Linked DNA regions of Homo sapiens: region 2 is linked to region 1. Evidence: fine-mapped expression QTL. A gene starts in region 1. The other region holds a variant in brackets. All regions are shown on one strand. Distances are from middle to middle. Region 1 holds the start of DDX60 (DExD/H-box helicase 60). Region 2 overlaps DDX60L (DExD/H-box 60 like).

Region 1 (10,512 bases):
TCCTTGTACAACCCAGTGTAAGTTGAAAGATAACTAAGTGACACACTACATCTAATTTGCTGTGTTCTAGCAGAAATGGCACAGGAAGCCATTAGAGAATTGAGAGGGAGTTCCTAAATCAGAATGAAGGGATCAGGGTCCTGTGTTCTGAGGTTTCAAGAACAGGTTGAAAAGATGATGAAGACTTATGAAAGCATGTTGGGGAAAGTGAGAGATATAGAGAATTACTTTTCAGGTAGCAAAATCAGCATCAGTTTAATGCATAAAGTTGTGAAACTACATGACAAGTTTGAGATCCTATGGGTTGTTCTACATGGCATAGGACAGGGTGACTCATTGGAGATGACATTGGAAAGGTAGGTTAGAACCAGACTATAATGGGTCTTGTGCCCAGGTCAGGAGATTAGGTATTTTCAAAAAACTCTCTGTCACCCATTTCATGCAATCCTCCACCTCACTAACTGTGCATTGGCCATACTATCTTTCTTCAACTCTCCAAATTGTACCAAGCTCAAATGGAAAAAAATGGGTCAGTGAGAACTGAACAGGCAAGAGAGAATTAACCCCAAGTATATTACAGAAAACTTCAGAAAGGATAGCATCAGATTCTACAAGATGAAATAAGTTAATTTACAGGTTCCCAGATGTTCACGATGCTCTTAGAGTCTCAGGAATTTTTTTATGCCACTCCTAGGACAAAATCAATAGCTAACCGTTTCATTTATTAAGTAGTTAGATACAAACAAATTAATAACTATTTATGTCCTGACAACTTAGAAATTGTTTTAAGAAATAATATACATAGATTAAAAGGAATAATATAGTTTTTATAATGAAATATAACTATGACTGAGACGTGAGTGCCCGTTAAACACTGTGAAACTTTCAGCAATAGCTATGGTGACAAAATAAAACTGCGTTAATGGGCAATCCCTCCTTAATTTGACAATCAAGGGATTCCGTAGCCTGCCTATGGGAAGTTTGAGATCCTACAGGTTGCTCTGCATGACATAGGACAGGGTATGCAAGACAATGCGTGTAAAGCCTAATAGGCTTTCCTCTTACATGCCCTATACTAAAGTAGGCTTACACACCCTAGGCTTTCCTCTTATATACCCTATACTAGAGCTACCCTATTAACCTCTGCCCCAACACATGCACGCCCTAACACCTAAACAGAATTCACAGTCATTATCCCCACTTCTCTGTCATTTAAGGGAGAGACATGCTAGAGATCCAGCCACCTGTAGTAACTAATGATTGAACACTCACACACACACACACACACACAAATTAGTACCAATAGACATTTGAGGCACACAAAAAAAGCAAAAATAAGAAACCAGATGAATAAGCATGATGCAGAGACAGAAAAGACCTTCAAAATTTTCTAATTACTGCTTTCAAAGAATTAAAAATATTTCTCATAAAATAGTAACAGGCTGCTAGAGAGAGAGAAAGAGAAAAAGAAAGCATGCAAGTATTCGTACACATTTAAAACATAATTTTACAAGGAAGAAAGTCATTGCAGAACAATAAAATGAGCATGCTGGAATTTTTAGTCAGTGATCTGTAGGGTTAAAGTCCAGGAAATTTTGTAAAGGATAAAAGTAAAAGACAAAGAGATGAAAAAATTCTAAAAATACTAAAATATCCAGGAATAAGTCAATAAGCTCTTTCTCCCCCTACTAATATTTCTAGTAGGAGATAACTAAGATTCCAAAATGAGTGGGGATAAAAATAATCAAAGATATATACTTAAACTAATATACTAATATTAGACTAGAACTAAAGAACAACATAATGTGTTTAGATTGAAATGTTTCTCTAACTACTGAGTAGAAATAATGACAAAAGAGAAAACTACGCCTAGGCACAACTTGTTAAAATTGCAGAGCTCCAAGAATAAAGAGAAAGACAGAAAAGGTACAAAGAAATGGAAGTCAGGCCATATGAGAACTGGTTTAAGAAATGAACACTGTTGGCCGACTACTTGCATTTTAATCTTGGTTCTGAAATATACTATAGTTCTATAAGCTTAGACAAGGTATTTACCATCTCTGAGTTTCAATTTACTTATCTATAAAATTGGAACAATAATATTACTCACCTCTGATTGTGTTTTCAAGCTACTTAAATGTATGAACTGATGGATACGAATTGATTAAAATAATACCTGGCACACAGAATTAATTAAAATAAGCAACATTCCTGGATGTTTTGATAAAATAAAGCACTTTCAGATTTCTAAAGGGAAAATAATTTGAACTTAGAATTCTGCATCTAAATAGTGATTCAATTCATGGAGGAGGCAAAAAGATGTAATTAGACTTCTAAGAAGTCATAAATTTCACCAACCATATATCCTTTTTTTATTTTAAGTTCTGAAATACATGTGCAGAACATGCAGGTTTGTTACATAGATATACATGTGCCATGGTGGTTTGCTGCACCTATCAACCCGTCATCCAGGTTTTAAGCACCTCATGCATTAGGTATTTGACCTAATGCTCTCCCTCCCTTTGCCCCCAACCCTCCGACAAGCCCCAGTGTGTGAGGTTCCCCTCCCTGTGTCCATGTGCTCTCATTGTTCCACTCCCACTTATGAGTGAGAACATGTGGTGTTTGGTTTTCTGTTCCTGTGTTAGTTTGCTGAGAATGATGGCTTCCAGCTTTATTCATGTCCCTGCAAAGGACACGAACTCATTCTTTTTTATGGCTGCATAGTGTTCCATGGGGTATATGTGCCACATTTTCTTTATCCAGCCTATCATTAATGGGTATTTGGGTTGGTTCCAAGTCTTTGCTATTGTAAATAGTGCTGCAATCAACATACATGTGCATGTGTCTTTACAGTAGAATGATTTATAATCCTTTGGGTATATACCCAGTAATGGGATTGCTGGGTCGAATAGTATTTCTGGTTCTAGATCCTTGAGGAATGGCCACGCTGTCTTCCAAAATGCCAACTATATATCTTAAATGATAATTTTATTTAAAGAGATAATACAGAAAATTGGGGAAAACCCATCAAGAATGAAGACAATCAAAAAACCATGAAACTTTGTGTGATTTAGAAAAGTTAAAGGAAGCTATAAAGAAAAACAAGAGAACCCATGGTACTTCGAATTTACAAAAGTCTATTTCAAACAGTAATTTTAACAACATAGAACTACATGTCTTAGCCTAGCAATTCCTAGATTGCTTCTACACTGAGTAATGTGTACATACTCATAATTTTGTCACTGCTGTTTACTTCTTTTTTACTGTTGACTCAACATACAAACAAATCACAAGAATCAAAGTCACAAACTGCTGTAAAATATGATAAACCTTGACAGTATGAAAATAATAATATAATTAACCAACTTGGCAGTTCACAAAGGGATGAATGAAAGAAAAATAAATATGAATGCTAAATTCTTCATCTTTCACAGCAGGATGTCCAGCAATAGCATCTGAAGACAATATATGAAAAAAAATAATGGTTTATGGAATCAAGAAATTATCCTGCTTTTCTTCTAAGTACTGCACCATCGCATTACCAAAGAGTAGATACAAGAGTGATTCATTTCTAGAAATAATGCAGCTAATAAACACAGAAGGAATGATAGAATTAGAATATCACCATTTTACAACTCCTAATGAATTAACAGATCTTGGTATTTTTAAACGATAGCACAACAAAAATAGAGGCAAGTGTCCACACCATCAGTGAAGTATTGTAGTTCTCCCAGCCAAAAAAAAAAGAAACCCAAAACTTGGGAGGCCAAGGCGGGCAGATCACCTGAGGTCGGGAGTTCGAGACCAGACTGGCCAACATGGTGAAACCCCATCTCTACTAAAAATGCAAACATTAGCTGGGCATGGTGACAGTCACCTGTAATCCCAGCTACTTGGGAGGCTGAGGTAGAAGAATCGCTTGAACCTGGGAGGCAGAGGTTGCAGTGAACTGAGATCAAGCCACTGCATTCCAGCCTGGGCAAAAGAGCAAGACTCCGTCTCAAAAAAAAAAAAAAAAAAAGAAGAAGAAGAAAAAAAAGAAAACCTGAATCTGATCAAAACGCTAGTAGTAATGATTAATTTACAAGAAATTTAGAGGCCAGCAAAATATGTTAAATGACACCACAGGGATTAGGACACATACACACACACACACATAAACACACACCCAACAGGACACACACATACAAAAACAAACAATCATAAGACCACAAATCTTACAAACGAATAAATTAAAAGGGGATGAAAGAAATTGCAAGAACCTTATAAGGCTTATCCTCCAATCACAGTAGTGTCAGAACCATATTCTGATTCAAACAATCTTAAAAAGGAAGAAGAAAAGAAGAAGGGAGGAAGAGAAATGGAAAAGAGAAAAAAGGAGGGAAGAGGAAAGGCGCAAAGGGGAGGTAAAGAGGAAAAAAATGGGGGCAAGGGAAGGGAAAGGAAATCATGGATTCTGTATTGGAACAGAATGGTGGAGCTACTTGATGAAAGGCATCAAGCTCCTGAAACCCTGCCTGGAGAAGAGCTGGTGGGTTAAAATGGCTTCCAGTACCCGGTATAACCCTCTCCCCTTGAGTGTGGACAGGACCTGTGAATTTAATGGCATAGTCTCTTTAATGATTCGGTTATATTATGTAAGACTTCATCATAGTAGACTCGGGAGATTCCCCCAAAGAGGCTTATACCTTCTTTAAAGGTACCCTATACCTTCTTTAACGGTATAAGCCACCTTGTTGTGAGAAGGCCACTGTAGCTAAGATCTCAGGGTGAAATCTAAAGACATGGGAACCCCCAGCCAACAGCCAGCAAGAAAGCAGGTAACCTCAGTCCTTTAGCTGCAAGAAACTGAATTCTTCCAACAACCTGAATGAGCATCCATGGTGTCCCATGAGGCCACAGCTCTGACACCTTGATTTCAGCTCGATGAGATGCTGAACAGAGAACTCACTTTACCCATGCCTGGGCTTCTGATCCACAGCAATTGTAAAATAATAAACTTGTAATGTTTTAAGCCACTATACCTGCCCCTTGACCAGGAATAAATTAAGTTACTGGAGTAGGAAATAAATTTCTATTGTCTTAAGCCACTGAAATTTAAGGGTGCACAGAAATTACCTGGGGGAATCTTATTAATAAACGCAGATTCTGATTCTACAAGTCTGGAGCAGGGATTGAAGGTGGAAGCTTCTTGCTGCTGTCAATGTACAGGTTTTACTGGCTGTGCTTAGATATGATGTCCCTTAATTTCTCCTCAACCTCCATTACCCAGCTCCCACCTTTGACGGGGACTCCTTAAATGCCTAACTAAGCACTCCTCTCTGTCTCAGACTTCAGGCCTTTCGCGGTTGTCCCTTTCCTCCGCCCCTCCCCACGCCCGGCCTTCCGGGCCAGCAGGGGGCCCGTGCGCCACGGCCTTGCGATCCCAGGAGGTTCCCCAGATTCCCGCGCCCCGAGCCCAGCACTCCTGGGCCACCTCCCTGTCCGGTCCGTTGAAGAAGACCTAGAACTCCCGCTAGACAGCTCCGCCCCAGGCTCTTCCCAAGGGACATCCCCGGCTCCTCACCGCGGACTCAGGACCGGTGGTGTCCAAAGACCCGCGAGCTGCGCGCCCCGCGGGGAGGGAGTGAAACAGAGACCTAGCGCAGAGCCCAGGTGGAAGTTCCAGGTTACCCCAGACCTGGCCTAGGACTCGGCGCTCTGAGCCACCGCAGCCAGTCTTTTATGCATCCGGCGGGAGTTTCGGTTTCCTTTCTCCTCTCAGAAGCACTTAGGTTTCAGTTTCCCTTCAGCACGAATTAGGCGAGGCACTTTCGTGGAAAGTTTAGCATCCTTCCCTTCAATCAGAATCTTAAGAAGGGGAGCATGGCGAGACGTTAGTTAAAAGGTATGAAGTTACAATAGCTAGGAAGAACCAGTTCTGGTATTCTATTCTGCAGTAGGGTGTGTATAGTTAACAATAATGCATATTTCAAAATAGCTAGAAGAGAGAATTTTGAATATTCTCATCACAAAGAAATAGTAAAGTTTTGAGGTAATAGATGGGCTAATTATCCTGATTTGATCATCACACAATGTATACATGTATTGAAACGTCACATTGTACCCCAAAAATATATACAATTATTATGCGTCAATTAAAAATAAAATGAAACTAAAAAAAACCTTAAAAGAGAGAGACAAAGGCAATAAAAATGGGCTTTGGAATTTGGGCATAAATATAGAGTAAATTGAGGCAGAAAAATTTGTAACATCTAAACAAGATAAAATCAAGAAGAGTTAGAATTTAGAAATTGATAAAATGTAAAAGACACTGTGGAATCTGAAACCCCACAATGAAATTGGAGATCTTGCTGCTTCTACTTGTATGCAAAAAGAAAAAAGAAAGTATGTAACAATACATGAACTTTGAGTTTCTGTTATGAGAAGCTGATGATTACTGTTCTGTATAAACTGTAATTGGTACTTTCATGGGCCAAGAATCAACATTAAAAAATAAATTGAAAATGCAGAATGGTCACATTTATTTGTGCCTCAAATTGATGAAATGTTCTCTTAATTTTTGCCTGTTGATACTTGCAGTGTGGGTTTCGATACTCATCTCCTTTCCTTTCAGTGCCCTCGTATGCTTGATTTCATTAATGCTATAAATATGCATTCATATATTGGAAATAGAAGAGGGTGTGGAGGAAAGACAGCAGTGAATTTGGGTAATCAGCATGATAAGAAGCCACAGGCTGCTTTGTCTACAAGGAAAGGAAAGAGCCAAGGTCCAGGCACTGCTCCACAGGGAACACAGAACAGAGAGAGTAGTGAATGATACTTTGTCTTGTGAAAAATTAGAGAGTCAAGTTGTTAAAAGAGGGGGATATGGGGAAGGAGGACATTTCTCACATCCATCAGACAATTACTTGTTTATTCATTTGTTTAGAAATTCACGTGTTTGTTAGTGATGAGATTAAGAAAGAAAATAAAAGACTCTAGAATTTAACACATGATTGGTCTTAAATCAGCCAATATTCCTGTCTCCTTCACTGTGATCTCTGATGTACCTGCCTGGGGTAGGCTGAATAATACCCTGCACTCCTCCCTCCAAAAGAGGCCAAAATCCTAATTCCTGGAACCTATGAATACAGTAACTTTCATAGCAAAAGTAACTTTGCAAAATAGATTAAATAAGAATCTTTAGAAGAGGAGATTACCCCTTACCCGGGATTATCCAGGTGGGCCCAAGGTCATCAGAAGGGCCTTTATAAGAGGGAGACAGGAGTTCGAGGGGCAATGTGATGATAGAAACAGTCAGTGACAGAATGTGGGGACACTACACAGATGGCGTTGAAGACAGTGGAAGGGACCACGGGCCAAGGAGTCTGGTGGTCTCTAGAAACTACCAAAGGCAAGGAAACATTTTTTTTTTCTAGAGCCTCCAGAAATCAGCCCTGATAACACCTTGACTTCAGCCCAGAGAGACTGATTTTGAACCTCTGAGCTCAGAACTGTAAGAGAACAAACTTGTGTGGTATTAAGCCACTAAATTTGTGGTAATTTGTTACAGCAGCCATAGAGAACTAATACAATATTGCAAACTGTATTGTAGGAAATGAATAACATATTTGCAAACAGCAGAAATAATGGATTGTGTTATAACAAGAGGTAGAATTAATTCAGACAGCTACTATGTGCTAAGCAATATGCTAATACCATATCAATGATCACAGCAAGTTCATGAGGTGTGTACTATGATTTCTGTCATTCTGTAGATAAGAAAAATAAAGCTTCGAGGGATAAAACAGCTAATAAATTATACTAAGATTCAAAATGTGGTCTAACCCAATGGCCTATCTACAACATTCTCTATTACATAATTTCATCAAATGCTTCAAATTCTACAACTGAAAGTGTTTCAGCTAGTGGACAAATGATTTTTTTTTGCTTAAATTATAAAGTTTTTTAGAATATATGATGTTCTACAGTTGTTTCGACTTTCAGTGACCGGATTTATCAGGTGAGAGTTCAAGACAACTTTGACTCATCCTCTTCAATTTTCCACCCCAAAGTATGTAAACACACAGAAACTTTTTATTTTTTTTTTACTTTTTCACTTCAACAGCCTACTCCCATGACCACACCCTGGACTTTGTTCTGAAGCTTGATAGTCACGTACTTTATTTTTCCTTTTAGACCCCTCCCTTTATGCCCTACACTTTAACCTCTGAGGACTCCCAAATGTTTGTCCTATCAGGGTGAACTCCATGAGCCAACACTTCAACTCTCCTCTTAATTAACATGTTCAACTGCTTGAACCTACTGACTTTCCTCTACACTTGCCTATAATTTGTTAATCCTGATTAATTCAAGTTTTCTTTTCTTTTTGATACCTGGCCACCAAGGGGAATGACCCAGTTAGGATCTCATCAAATGTATTATTTAACAACACAGCTGATACCTTTTTTTCTGTTCCCCTCAGCCTTCTGCATATTTCACAATGACAGTTACAATTCAGCACTTTACCATTCTCAAGTCTTTTAAATGATAGACCATCTCTTCTGTTTTCAAGGAGAATTCTCTCCAGCTTTCTGATAACTCCATATTCCAGTCTCACACAGAGTTTAAGCAGAACACACAGCATGCCACTTACACACAACATAACTAGCCTTCTAGATCTGGGTTTGGATCTCCCCTCAAGCATCCTAGCCCATCATTCTTCAGTTTGTTGTGTATTTTAACATCTCTTTGTCAACTAAAACATAGTGTTCATTCCACTAATAGGTTCAATTAGAACCTATTCAATTCAATAGAACTCAATTCAATAGAATTCAATTCTAATTGAACCTATTGAATTGAATAGGTTCAATAGGTTCAAACTTCCATTTTCAAACAATAAGAAAAATGATGTCATGCCCGATTTCAGCCCTTCTCTTTTCAGCATGGTGCCCTGTAGTGGTCTTCATCCATTGGCTACACTTCTTCACCTCCCTTCAAATTTCTCAGGCCCATTAGCCTAAATCTGATCTGGAACTGCTCTGTCAAAGATATCCAATGAGGATCCACTAATTGACAAATCCAAACAATGCTTGTTTAGTCCCTGTTTGATTTACTTGCCTCTGTTCAGCATTAGAAAGATAGTTTGTACAGCCCCTCTCTTCTAAAGTGCCTCTTCTCCCTTGATTTCAGTTACAATCTTCTCCTTCAAATCAATTTCTTTTCCCACCTTCTCTGTAAGGATCAGCAGAATCATCACATAACTACTGCTCAAGTTAGAAACCTGGGAGCCATTGTTGCATCCTCACTTCCCTCAAATCCCAGTAAATTCCAACTCCAAACACTTACAGAATCTTGAGTCTCTTGACTCTTCCATTTTTCCAAAGGCTAGAGCAAGCCTCATCATTTCTCATCTGGATTATTGAAACAACCTTTTCACTTTCTAACTCCAGTCTGTCCCTCCAATTCATTTTCTACTCTGCTGCATTTTTTCAGCAGGTAAAACTGAGCACATCAAGACCCCATTAAAAAACACTTCAATATATGCTCATTGCTTCTAGATCAAACTTTCCTATCAATATTTCCTCTCTTCTTAGAACACTTCAAATAGTTTATTCACCTCCTCTTCTCTCCATTGGTGAGGGAATGATTCCCACCCTAGGGGAAAGGGATGGCCAGACTCATGGCACTTGACACGGAAGTTTGACAGCAGTTTATTAGTCACATGTCCTCCCAGCCAAGGGAGAAGGAAACTGTGTGCCACACAGGGCCACACCGGGATGGAACTCAGGAGCAAAGTGAAAAAGCAGGGACTATGGGAACCAGGGTCTGCAATTACCAAAGGATGGGGGGAAGCTCCCTGTTTCCCACAGGAGGATGTGATTGTTTGATTGAATAATTTTGCTGGCTGACTAGACAGTGAAATCCAAAAGTTAAGTGCAACTGGTAGGGCTGATAGAGAAAGAGCTAGGTGGGAAGGCTTTGGAGCTGGGTGCAGAGTATATCTGGTGAGAGCCCAGAACTACTGGTTAGGTCTCTGGGGCCCCAAGAGCCTCAAAGCAGCCTCAACTTTCACATGGAGCAAGCACATGAAATTTTCAGCCTTATGATACAATGCCTTTCTATCCACTTAAAATTTGATGATGTCTGAGACTTACTGAGAGTAGGAGGGCTTTCCTAGGAAGCAAATCAGGTATTTGACCAGGAGGGAGAGGATCAAATAGTGAGATGGAAATCAAGAACATAAAATTTAGAGGTGCCCCCATTATGACCAATAAAAACAATTGAGGGACTCCTGTGGCACTGGTATAGGGAGTGCGAGTCCCCAGCGGTTGTGAATTTACATTAATCAATGCATGCATGTAGCAGTGGTGACACCCATGAGGGCATCTATTTGCCACATTGTAACTTTAATAAGAGCTCTTTGAACTGCCTGTTAGGCCTCTTAAATTAAACTGACTGGTACCGATATATAGGCAAGGTGGAAGTTCCACTGAATGCTTTCTTCAAGAGCCCACTGTTATATAT
Region 2 (10,512 bases), 61 kb after region 1:
ACCAAGTCATGCACTCAGGTCTGGCTCGTTTTTCCCATCACGACACAATCACACACTCCCATCATCTTTTCTCTGCACTACTTTCCTTGCTTCCACCATTATTGTCTGCATTTGCTCATGCTGTGTCCTACATCAACAAATCTTGAGTAGCTACAATGCTTACCTCCCTGTCTTTTACTCCAACTATGACTATATTAGGAGACAGGGGAATATGGGAATCATTTTATGGCTCCACTCTTTACTCTTAGTCTAGCTTCTTTCCATTTATTCTCCCCTAAAAGTTTCCCGCTATAAAATTGAAATTTGGAAGCTTAGTTACTTTGCAATACCAGTTACTCCTCAATCAAGAACAAATAATTGAAGCAAAGAATGATATTTGCAACGTCTGCTAGAACTTTCCGTAATGATGGAAATATTCTACCTCTACTGTGTCCAAAGTAGAAGCCACTAGCACTGGAAAGTTAACGTGACTAAAGCTAAAGTGACTAAAGAATTAACTTTTCAATTGTTTTATTTTTAATCAACTTAATTTAAATAGTGACACGTAGCTAGCTGGTGGCTACCATGTTGGGTAGAATAGACTTACGCGATGTTGACTATGTGCTATGCACTGTTTTAAGAAACTTATAAACATTAATATACCTAATCCTCTAAAATTCTGTAAGCTAGGTAATATTTTTAGTCATTTCATTTTACAGATTAAAAAAATGAGACACAGAAAGATTAAGTAACTGGCATGAGACCTCATGGTTAATAAGTAGCAGAGCCAGGATTTAGACCTTGGCATTCTGCTGCCAGTGTTCACATTTGTAACCACTATGCAACTGCCCCTCAGGGGAAAAAAATGCCAGAAATTATGCCGTTTTCTTTTTCATCTGTCACTTTTTCTGATCCAGTTTTCCAACCTGAACAGATAGGCAACTTTCCATCAAAATGGTTCATGAATGACTTTTATTTTTTTTCCTCCATTGCCCAATTAATATTTGGTAATTATAAAGTTTTTTTTTAATTGGAAAACAGAGCCATTATCACACCCTACAATGGGCTAAATTGTTTTCTGGGGATAAAACACTTGGGTTAGTACAGCTGCCCTGTAATAAGCTCCTTTACCAGCTTTGAAGCATCCAATATCCAGAGGCTTTCTTAACCAAGATTGTTTACTCTTTAAATTGTTCCGGAATGGAACTAAAATCTGCTTACTGATTCTTGACAAAGGGAGTTGATGCTCTTTTTTCATGTTCACCGACTTGGAAGCAATCAGCAGGAAGGAGGCAAAATCCTTCATTACTGCCAGGTTATACTCATATAAAGCAGCTTTAAAATCCTCCGGGAGTTCGGCAAGGATCACCTATGGGCGAAATACATTTCAGAAAGATCTCTTTACTTTTATTTAAAAAATTAAACTGCTTGGTGATAAGATTGCAGCATAGTTCTGTAGATTGATGCTCATTCATCAAAACCCTTGATTACTTTACTCACCTGTGAGATTAAGGTAAAATTTCCTTTTGATTTCAACCAACATTTATAAATGTAAGTATCTTTCCTTAAAAAAGTTATTTTGACTCCACTTAGCCAAAACCACCAATTTAATAGAAACATGTCCTACACTGATCTTAAACTTAGGTATATTTCAGAGACTTGAGGGACATATTTAGAGAGCAAGTAACAAGTTAGTGTAGCAGTAGTAGCGTCAATGCTTTATTGAGTTCAGATTATGTGCCAACACTGTGCTTTGCTGCCCCAAGCACTTGTTATATGTTAGCTCAGTTAATCCTGAGAACAACCCTATGCAGTAAACATTTTCATCTACATTTTGTACATGAGGGAGCTAACCCTCACAGAGGTAAACTTGTTCCAAACCTGACAGGTAGTAGATAGAGAAGTAGCTGGTATTGCAAGCTAACTCAGCTTCCAAATTTCATGTTTAAAAACAAATTCTTTCAGAATTAGGACTAGAAGTTTCTTTAGTGTGAGTTAGAAATAGCTATGACATTAGAAATGTTCTTGGTTTTCTTCTGTTACAATTATGGGTTTTATTATTTATTTGATATTTTCCTTAATTTATTCATAACCTGTACTTTTCCAATAATTGAGGTATTTTATAAGGGTAAAGATAATACAATATGATCATATAAATCAAAATTTGGTAAAAAGGAAAGAAAAACAAGAAAGAGACTAAAATGGGGCACAAATTATATTCCAAGATTCCTAGGAGCAAGTGTGAATGACACATTTCAGAATGTCTATGAGATAAACAGCTATTTATTCTCAGCACTAATATCAGGTAAGAATTTTCCAGGGGGATTCTTACAAAAGGCAACCGTGTGGACATAATAAAGAATGCCCCTACCAACTCCTTACAGTGGATAGTATGACAATTTCCACAAGCCTACTTCGGACTCAGCTCCATCTGTGGATGGACCAAGACAAAAGAATAAATTGACAGGTGCAGCTCTACACTCTGGTCAAAGTGATATGGTCTCTTTACTGCTATGCCTTCCATGTCCTGCCATTGTGCCACTGCTGGACACCGTTCTAGGGCAGCACGTGCTGCTTACCATGTACACCTTGTGTTGTTTGCCACCTTCTCGAATGTGTATGCTATACAGCCCCATCAGGAGAGCAAGCTCTTGGAAGGTAGCAACTATGTTTCCCAATCATGATTTTTGCTATAGTTTACACATATTTATTGCTCAATAAATCTTTGCTAATTGACTAATATAGAGCAGTTATCCCAAATTATGGTACATAATATAAGAGGTACATGAGATGATTTAGTGTGACACACAGAACATTGAGTAATTATACATCAGTTTTAAAAAATAAAAAGTGGGCTGGGCATGGTGGCTCATGCCTGTAATCCCACCACTTTGGGAAGCCAAGGCGGGCGCATCACTTGAGGTCAGGAGTTTAAAACCAACCTGGCCAACCTGATGAAACCTCAACTGTACTAAAAATACAAAAAAATTAGCCAAGCGTGGTGGCGAAGCCTGTAATCCCAGCTACTTGGGAGGCTGAGGCAGGAGAATGGCTTGAACCTGGGAGGTGGAAGTTGCAGTGAGCTGAGATTGCGCCACTGCACTCTAGCCTGGGTGAGTGAGCAAGACTCTGTCTCAAATAAATAAATAAATAAATAAATAAATAAATAAATAAATAAATAAATAAAAATATCTTCTTTCCAGTCCTCTTCTATTCTTTCTGATAACCCTAGAAAGTCCAGAGGCAATAGACCACCATTGTTTCTCTAAAAGTTTATAATCTCTTTTTGTAGCAAAGAGAGAGAAGCTTCAGCTGAGAACCATGTTAACTGCATCTATTTTTATGGCTTCCTTAGTTTTGAAATCAAAGATCCTGGCTTTCTATTTACAGTAGTAGTAAATATGAAGTTTCCTTTTTAAATACTTTAAAATGTGTATGCATTTAAGAAAATGATTAACAGTTCCAGTGGTTTGCAATGTGGATATATGTCAGTAACTAAAATTGGGTGCTCAGGTCTGGAGGTATATCCAGAGGCATTGTGAGGTCAGAAAGCCTAGATTAATGCTAATTACCTTTTTGTTCTCTATTCACTAGGGTTACTGGATAGAAACAAGCTTCTTCTACATTCCCAGGTTCTAATGCACATTTTCTTGGGTTCTGTTTGCTTGTTATTATTTTGTTGTTGTGTCTTTAAAAAAATAAGAAATTGGAAACAAACAGTGTTACAAAAAAACTTAGAAAATAATTTTTCTTTCAGTCTCTCAACCCTTAAGTTAGGGGATTCTTTCTTAGGTGACCACCTCAATATTGTCTGAAGAGGACATTAGAGGTCATAATGTAATTCCTTCCCTGCACTCCCATCCCTAGCTGTAAACAATCCCAATGGAACTATAGGTTCAGCAGTAGGGCTGTCATTCTATTTAAATGACTATTTGTGTATGTAATCTCTGTTGCTACTGAATTACATAATTTGCTCCAATAAAGTGAAAAAACTTTAGGGATAAGAATTGTTTGTTAGATTAGCAGGGGAAGATGTTTGAACTAAAAATTAAATAGAACTCTAATTATGAAAAGACAACACTATTAAAACAAATGGAGTAGCTTATATTAATTTAACCCTATAGGTACTGAATGCTTTCCAGTAGCATACATTTAATAACTATCATTATTATATCATTGTAAGTATAACAAACTTTACCTTTGACTGAGAAAAACTTAAATTAGCATTTTGGAATTTTGCTGGAATATATTTTCTTCCAAACAAATTTGCCAATACTAACACGAGCTTTTCCATCACATCTTGGGAAAATTGTTGTGAGCCTATTGAAATAAAGAGCATTATTATAAATAAGAATAATGTTGATTCCATTTATTTTCTGCCTAAATTTGTTTTTATAGTACATTTCCTTTTGTTGAAGGCAAAATTTTCTAGCAAATATATACCTCAGAAATTGACCATATTTGCAATACTATGTGCACATTTATTTTTTTGGGTAAGACAGGAGATTTTATATTCTGTGCCTTGTTTTTCCATCCTTGCTATACCCGCCCTAGTTCCCACCCCAGAATGTTTACTAACTGGTTTCCTGACTTGCACTCTCCTTTCTTCAGGCCATCTTGAGAGTGATCAGCCTTTCCAAAGCATGAATATAAACA[T/C]ATCCCTCCTTTACTCAAAAACCTTTGAGGGTATCTCAACGGCTAATTGAAAAATCCAGGTTCCTTGGCCTGCTCTTTAGGGTGTTTCAAATCCTGTCAAAACAAAGCTTCCAAACTTACCTACCAACACTTCTAAACACTAGCTCTAGGTTCTGGTCATCTTGACCTACTCTCCACTCCCCATAACGCATGAGCACCATACTGTGGGCATTAAAAGGTGGCTAGGTTTAATTAACTGGGCTCTGAAGCATACTAAAATCATATGACCATCAGAAACTTATTGTCTTTCTATGCTTCTCCGTTTTCTCTTCTGCAAATATTCTTTATCAGTTAAGTAATATATAAGTAGCCCTCAAATACTCTTTATTAGAATAAATATCAGTTGACTTTTAGTGTCTAATTTTTTGGCATCTGTAAATCTGAACATATACTTAGTATTTATTTGCTTTAATAAATGAGAAGGAGGAAGAAGAGAAAAACATATCTGCGGTTTTGGCTATTCAATAAATATGTTGCCATTTTTCGACTACAGGTATAAAACCCAAGCTTACCTTTCCAGGCTGGCTTACAGAGATTATGGAAAAGGCCTCTCTTGAGAAAATTTACAAAAACAAGATTTGAAGGTTCATGACCATGCAAATATGATGCAAGTCCTGCAAATTTCTTTGGATTACCCTTTTTATTTAAATAGTCCTAAAAATGAGAAACAAAAAGTTGATTTAACTTGTCATGTACTCAAATACCATAAAATACCAGTGTGAGTGACTGACAAATATTACCTGACTTCATTTATTAATAAATGATAAGTAACATTATCATTGAATGCAGATTATAGAAATTTCAGTTGGTTTAGCATAGAAAGAAGTTTACACGGTACTAGTTACAGAGAACAAAAAGCCAAAGCACGATGATACCTCTTTGATAAGGAGCTGCAAGGAAAACAAAAAGTAAAGTTTCAAAGTCTCCATGGCTCTTCGTCTCTTAAAAGACAGCAATGAATGCTTTAGCACTGACAACACCTATAAAAGAAGAGTACTTTAATTTATCTAGTTTTAAACAGTATTTGTAAATACTGATATGTAATAAATAGTACACATACATACTATATAGATAAGGTTACCAGATCTTACGTGAAAGTAAATTTCATTTGATTTCATATTATCTCTTTGATTGTATCTTCACATGGCACATGCTTCCTTGAATTAAATACATCATATAAAGCAGAACTGTTATACATAACCCAGACTGGCAAATAATCTGCTAAATCCCTGAAACAGTGGTGACCAATAGTGGCCTGAAAAAATGAAGTATGAAAGCCAATCCGGCTTACAAGATTAGTTGTCTTAGGCCATTCTAAAGGTAAATAGAGTAATTATATTGTTCTGAATCTTGAGTTATCCCATTAAACCTAATGGAATTAGGTAGATTGCAGTCAACAGAATGGAAATATTTGGATCTGTGTCATCACCCAAATTTCATGTCAAATTGTAATCCCCAGTGTTGGAGGTGGGGCCTGATTGGAGGTGATTGGATCATGGAGGTGAATTTCCCCTCTGGTGCTGTTCTCATGATAGTGAGTTATCATGAGATCTGGTTGTTTAAAAGTGTGTAGCACCTCCCCTCTACCTCTCTTCCTCCTGCTCCAGCCATGCATGTAACACACGGCCTACTTCTGCTTCACTTTCTGACATGATTGAAAGTTTCCTGAGGCCTACCCAGAAGCAGAAGCTACTTATGCTTCCTGTACAGCCTGCAGAACCATAAGCCAATAAAATGTCTTTTCTTTATAAATTACCCAGTCTCAAGTGTCTCTGTATAGCAGCGTGAGAATGAACTAATACAGGAAGTTGATACTGAGGAGTGGGGCACTGCTATAAAGATATCTGAAAATGTGGAAGCGATTTTGGAACTGCATAGTGGACAGAGGTTGGAATTTTGTGGAGGGCTCAGAAGAAGACAGGAAGATGAGGGAAAGTTTGGATCCTAAAGACTTGTTAAACTGTTGTGATCAAAATGCTAATAGTAATATGGACAATGAAGTCCAGGCTAATGAGGTCTCAGATGGAGATGAAGAACTTATTGGGAACTGGAGCAAAGGTCAATTTTGTTAAGTGTTAGCAAAGAGGTTAGCTGCATTGTGCTCCTGCTCTAGGGAACTGTAGAACTTTGAACTTGAAAGAGATGATTTAGGGTATGTGGCAGAAATAAATTTCTAAGTAGCAAAGTGTTCAAGATGTAGCCTGGCTGCTTCTATCAACCTATGCGCATATGTGTTAGCAAAGAAATCACCTGAAACTAGAACTTGTATTTGAAAGGGAAGCAGAGTATAAATCTGAAAAATATGCAGCCTAGCCATGTGGCAGAAAAGAAAAGCCTATTTTCTGGGCAGGAATTCAAGCAGCCTGCATGTATTTGTATAACTAAAAGGAAGGCAAATGCTGATAGTCAAGACAATTGGAAAAGTCCTCACAGACATTTCAGAGACCTTTGCAGCATTCCCTCCCATCACAGGCTGGAGTGCAGTAGGTCATAGCTCACTGCAACCTCAAACTCCTGGACTCAAGTGATCCTCCTGCCTCAGCCTCCCAAATAGCTGGGACTACAGGTATATGCCACCATACCCAGCCAGTGAAACTTTTTCTAATAAAGAAACCAAAGCAATTAAAATAGAAATCAAATTAAAAATCTAATTTAATAAATATACTTCTTCAAAAACAACTTGAATGTGATAAATTGAAAAGGTTCTGAATATGATAAACACTATCAATTTTTTTTAAAAAAAAAAACTATAACTAGAAACTTCTCCTAAAAAAGTAACATATAAGAATAAAGAAAAGGATCCATATACATGGGCAGAAAAAGTCAAGTGACCTACAAGAAAACAGCAATCAGTAGGGCCACAGATTATATCTCCACAACAGTAGATGCCAAAGAAAATGAAGCATCGACAATTCTGAAGACTAATGGCTCAAATCCAAAAAATTTATGCCAGGTTAAATTGTCCTTACTACAAAAGAAAAAATCTCCTCAAATACGCAGGAGCCCAGAAAATATGCCACCCTCACAAACGTTATTATATGAAAAACAATAACAAAAACCTTTAAAGTGTACTACTCTCTCTTCCTGGGAGAGTAATCAAAACCAAGAATGGGGCCACTTTTACATAGAACTGGGTGTCGCTGTTCTCTGTGACTATCAAAAGGCACACACCTGACTCATTACAGGGTTCTGGGAAGACTCTTTGTCTTGGCAAGTGGAATCTGACGTAACTGGCCATGATAATGAATATATAAGAATATGGAAAACTTGGTAACCTTACAATGATATTTTATTAAATTTAAATTTTAATGTGAATTATATATTACTCAACATGGGGTTACATCCCCCAAAATTGTTCTGATTGAAAACCTCAGGCAAATTTACCAAATTCTGACATCTAGTTCAACATAACTGCATCCATTCTTTAAAAAGCAAACACTTACCCACATTTAGGTAGAAAAGACTGGAAGAAATATACCAAAATAATAAAGCAGTTTCCTTTGAGTAGTGGAACTATCGCTTCTTGGCCTTTTGGCTAAGATCAAGTGAGTAGTGGAACTAGGTATGGGTGATTTTTCCTTCTTTCAGCTTTTCTATGGTTCCAAATAAACTTTTATAAACAGGTTATTTTATATTTAAAATATAATTTTTATTTTTAATACAGCAATACTGTTTTCCTCATTTTTATCTGGAATTAAGAGTGACACATTTGAGAATACATTCAATCTTTCATTTCACTTATAATTCTTCTAATAATTCTTTAATGTAAAAATTTCATATTGATCTAATTAATTAAGTGGCAAATGCTGACAACATAACAGAATTTAAGGTAGAAGCAAATCTATTTTTCCACAAAAAATATATAGACAGTCAAAAACAAGTTATATTATCAGTTTTCACTCATACTTGACTTCCTTTATAAAGGAAAAAGTAAAAATCAACATATAAAAAGAATGAAAAAGTTAGCAAGTGCTTTTCCCATTCTTCTCTTTAATGAACACTAAAGCAAAACAAAAAAAACCTAAAACTAAAATCATAAGACCTGAGACTACAAACAATAATAGCTAGCATTTATGTGTTTACTACTCATCGAATATGATGCTAAGAAGTCCTTGACTTGCATTAACTATAATTTATAGTGGTTGTTATTGCCATTTTGTAGCTGACAGTTCTGAGATTTAGGAAAATGTAATTGCCTTATTAAAGTTAAATAGTCAGTAAATAATTGAACCAGGGACCTATTCCAGACCTTTATGAGTCTATAGCCAATATTCAACCACTATACTATATTGCTTTTCACACATTAAAATAACCCTGGTAATTCTTAATGCCTTATGGTCTTTGGTGGTAAAACAAAATTATTTTTTTCTGTCCTGAAGAAACATATAATAATCAAGAAAATGCAAAGCATTAAAAGAGTGATGAAACTGAAGAGCTATTGCTACTGTTGACGTGAAAAATACTGGGGCAAAATTAATATAGAGAGTTCATTTGGGCCAAGGTTGAAGACAGCTGTCTGGGACAGACACACTTCCAAGTTGTCCCAAAAAGTATTCTGCTCAGCCTTTGCTACAAGTAGATTTTTAAAGGCAAAAGGGGACAAGAAGTGGGCTGATACAAAGTTTTTTGACAGGAGTTCTCACAGTTTTACAGAAATAACATTGATTTGTGATTGGCTATACATTGTTGAACTACAAGGAATGAGGTATGGTGTCCAATGTATGGTGTTTTATGGCTACTTCATGTCAGTTAGCCTAGAGTTCACATAGGAAGTGGCTTCAAGAGGTAATTATTTAGCTCACGAGGGGAGTGAGACATGACTGCTGTCACACCCTGTCACACTCCAATGCCTCTCTGGGCCTGATAATTAAAGGGCACTCACATTCCTCAGATAAAAAGTTTCTTGGCCAAGTGCACTGGTTCACACCTGTAATCTCAACATTCTGGGAGGCCAAGGCAGGTGTGATGGTTAACACTGAGTGTCAACTTGATTGGATTGAAGCATTCAAAGTATTGATCCTAGGTGTGTCTTTGAGCGTGTTGCCAAAGGAGATTAACATTTGACTCAGTGGGCTGGGAAAGGCAGACCCACCCTTAATGTGGGTGGGCACCATCTAATCAGCTGCCAGCATGGCCAGAATATAAAGCAGGCAGAAAAAATGAAAAGGCTAGACTGACTTAGTCTCCCAAACTACATCTTTCTCCTGTGCTGGATACTTCCTGCCCTTGAGCATCAGACTCCAAGTTCTTTCATTTTGGGACTCAGACTGGCTTCCTTGCTCCTCAGCTTGCAGATGGCCTATTATGGGTCCTTGTGATCATGTGAGTTAATACTTAATAAACTCTTCTTTATACATATATCTATCCTATTAGTTCTGTCACTCTACAGAACCCTAATACAGTGGGTGGATTGCTTGAGCCCAGGAGTTTGAGACCAGCCTGGGCAACAGTGAGCCCTCACCTCTACACAAAAAAATAAAATAAAAATTAGCTGGGCATGGTGGTGTACACCTGTAGTCCCAGCTACTTGGGATGCTGAGATGGGAAGATCACTTGAGCCCAGGTGATTAAGGCTGCAGTAAACCATGATTGTACCACTGCACTCCAGCCTAGATGACACAGCAAGACCCTGTCTCCAAAACAATCAAACAAAAAGAAAGTTTATTTTCTTTCTCAAGACAGACTTCTAAAAGAGCAGCAGACCTGACTAGAGCCAGGCCAGTGATGAAGACTGAACCTCAGGCAGTGTCCAGCACGGTACCTTTGCCTTGGCATCCTCTGGGTCATCTCCCTTGGAAGCCAGCAGCATGAGTCGCAGGACCAGGGTTATGCTGAGAG

The links. PIP is the estimated chance that this variant, and not a neighbour inherited with it, causes the effect. A credible set is the group of variants that fine-mapping cannot tell apart.
Region 2: its variant is the best candidate, but not a certain one, in a credible set for the expression of DDX60 in whole blood (INTERVAL, PIP 0.62).

Annotation. Positions count from the first base shown.
Region 1 is chr4:168,313,053-168,323,564 of GRCh38, forward strand. DDX60 (DExD/H-box helicase 60) reads right to left here and starts at 5,700. Exons shown (of 38, transcript NM_017631.6): 1 at 5,570-5,700. RefSeq lists an enhancer at 5,634-5,963.
Region 2 is chr4:168,374,177-168,384,688 of GRCh38, forward strand. It overlaps DDX60L (DExD/H-box 60 like), which reads right to left. Exons shown (of 38, transcript NM_001012967.3): 30 at 10,436-10,512; 31 at 5,550-5,654; 32 at 5,187-5,328; 33 at 4,178-4,299; 34 at 1,201-1,348. Among named protein-coding and RNA genes, the nearest start is that of DDX60, 61 kb to the left of the region's middle. RefSeq lists enhancers at 2,406-2,575, 5,039-5,208. The variant T/C (reference allele first, on the strand shown) is at 4,636.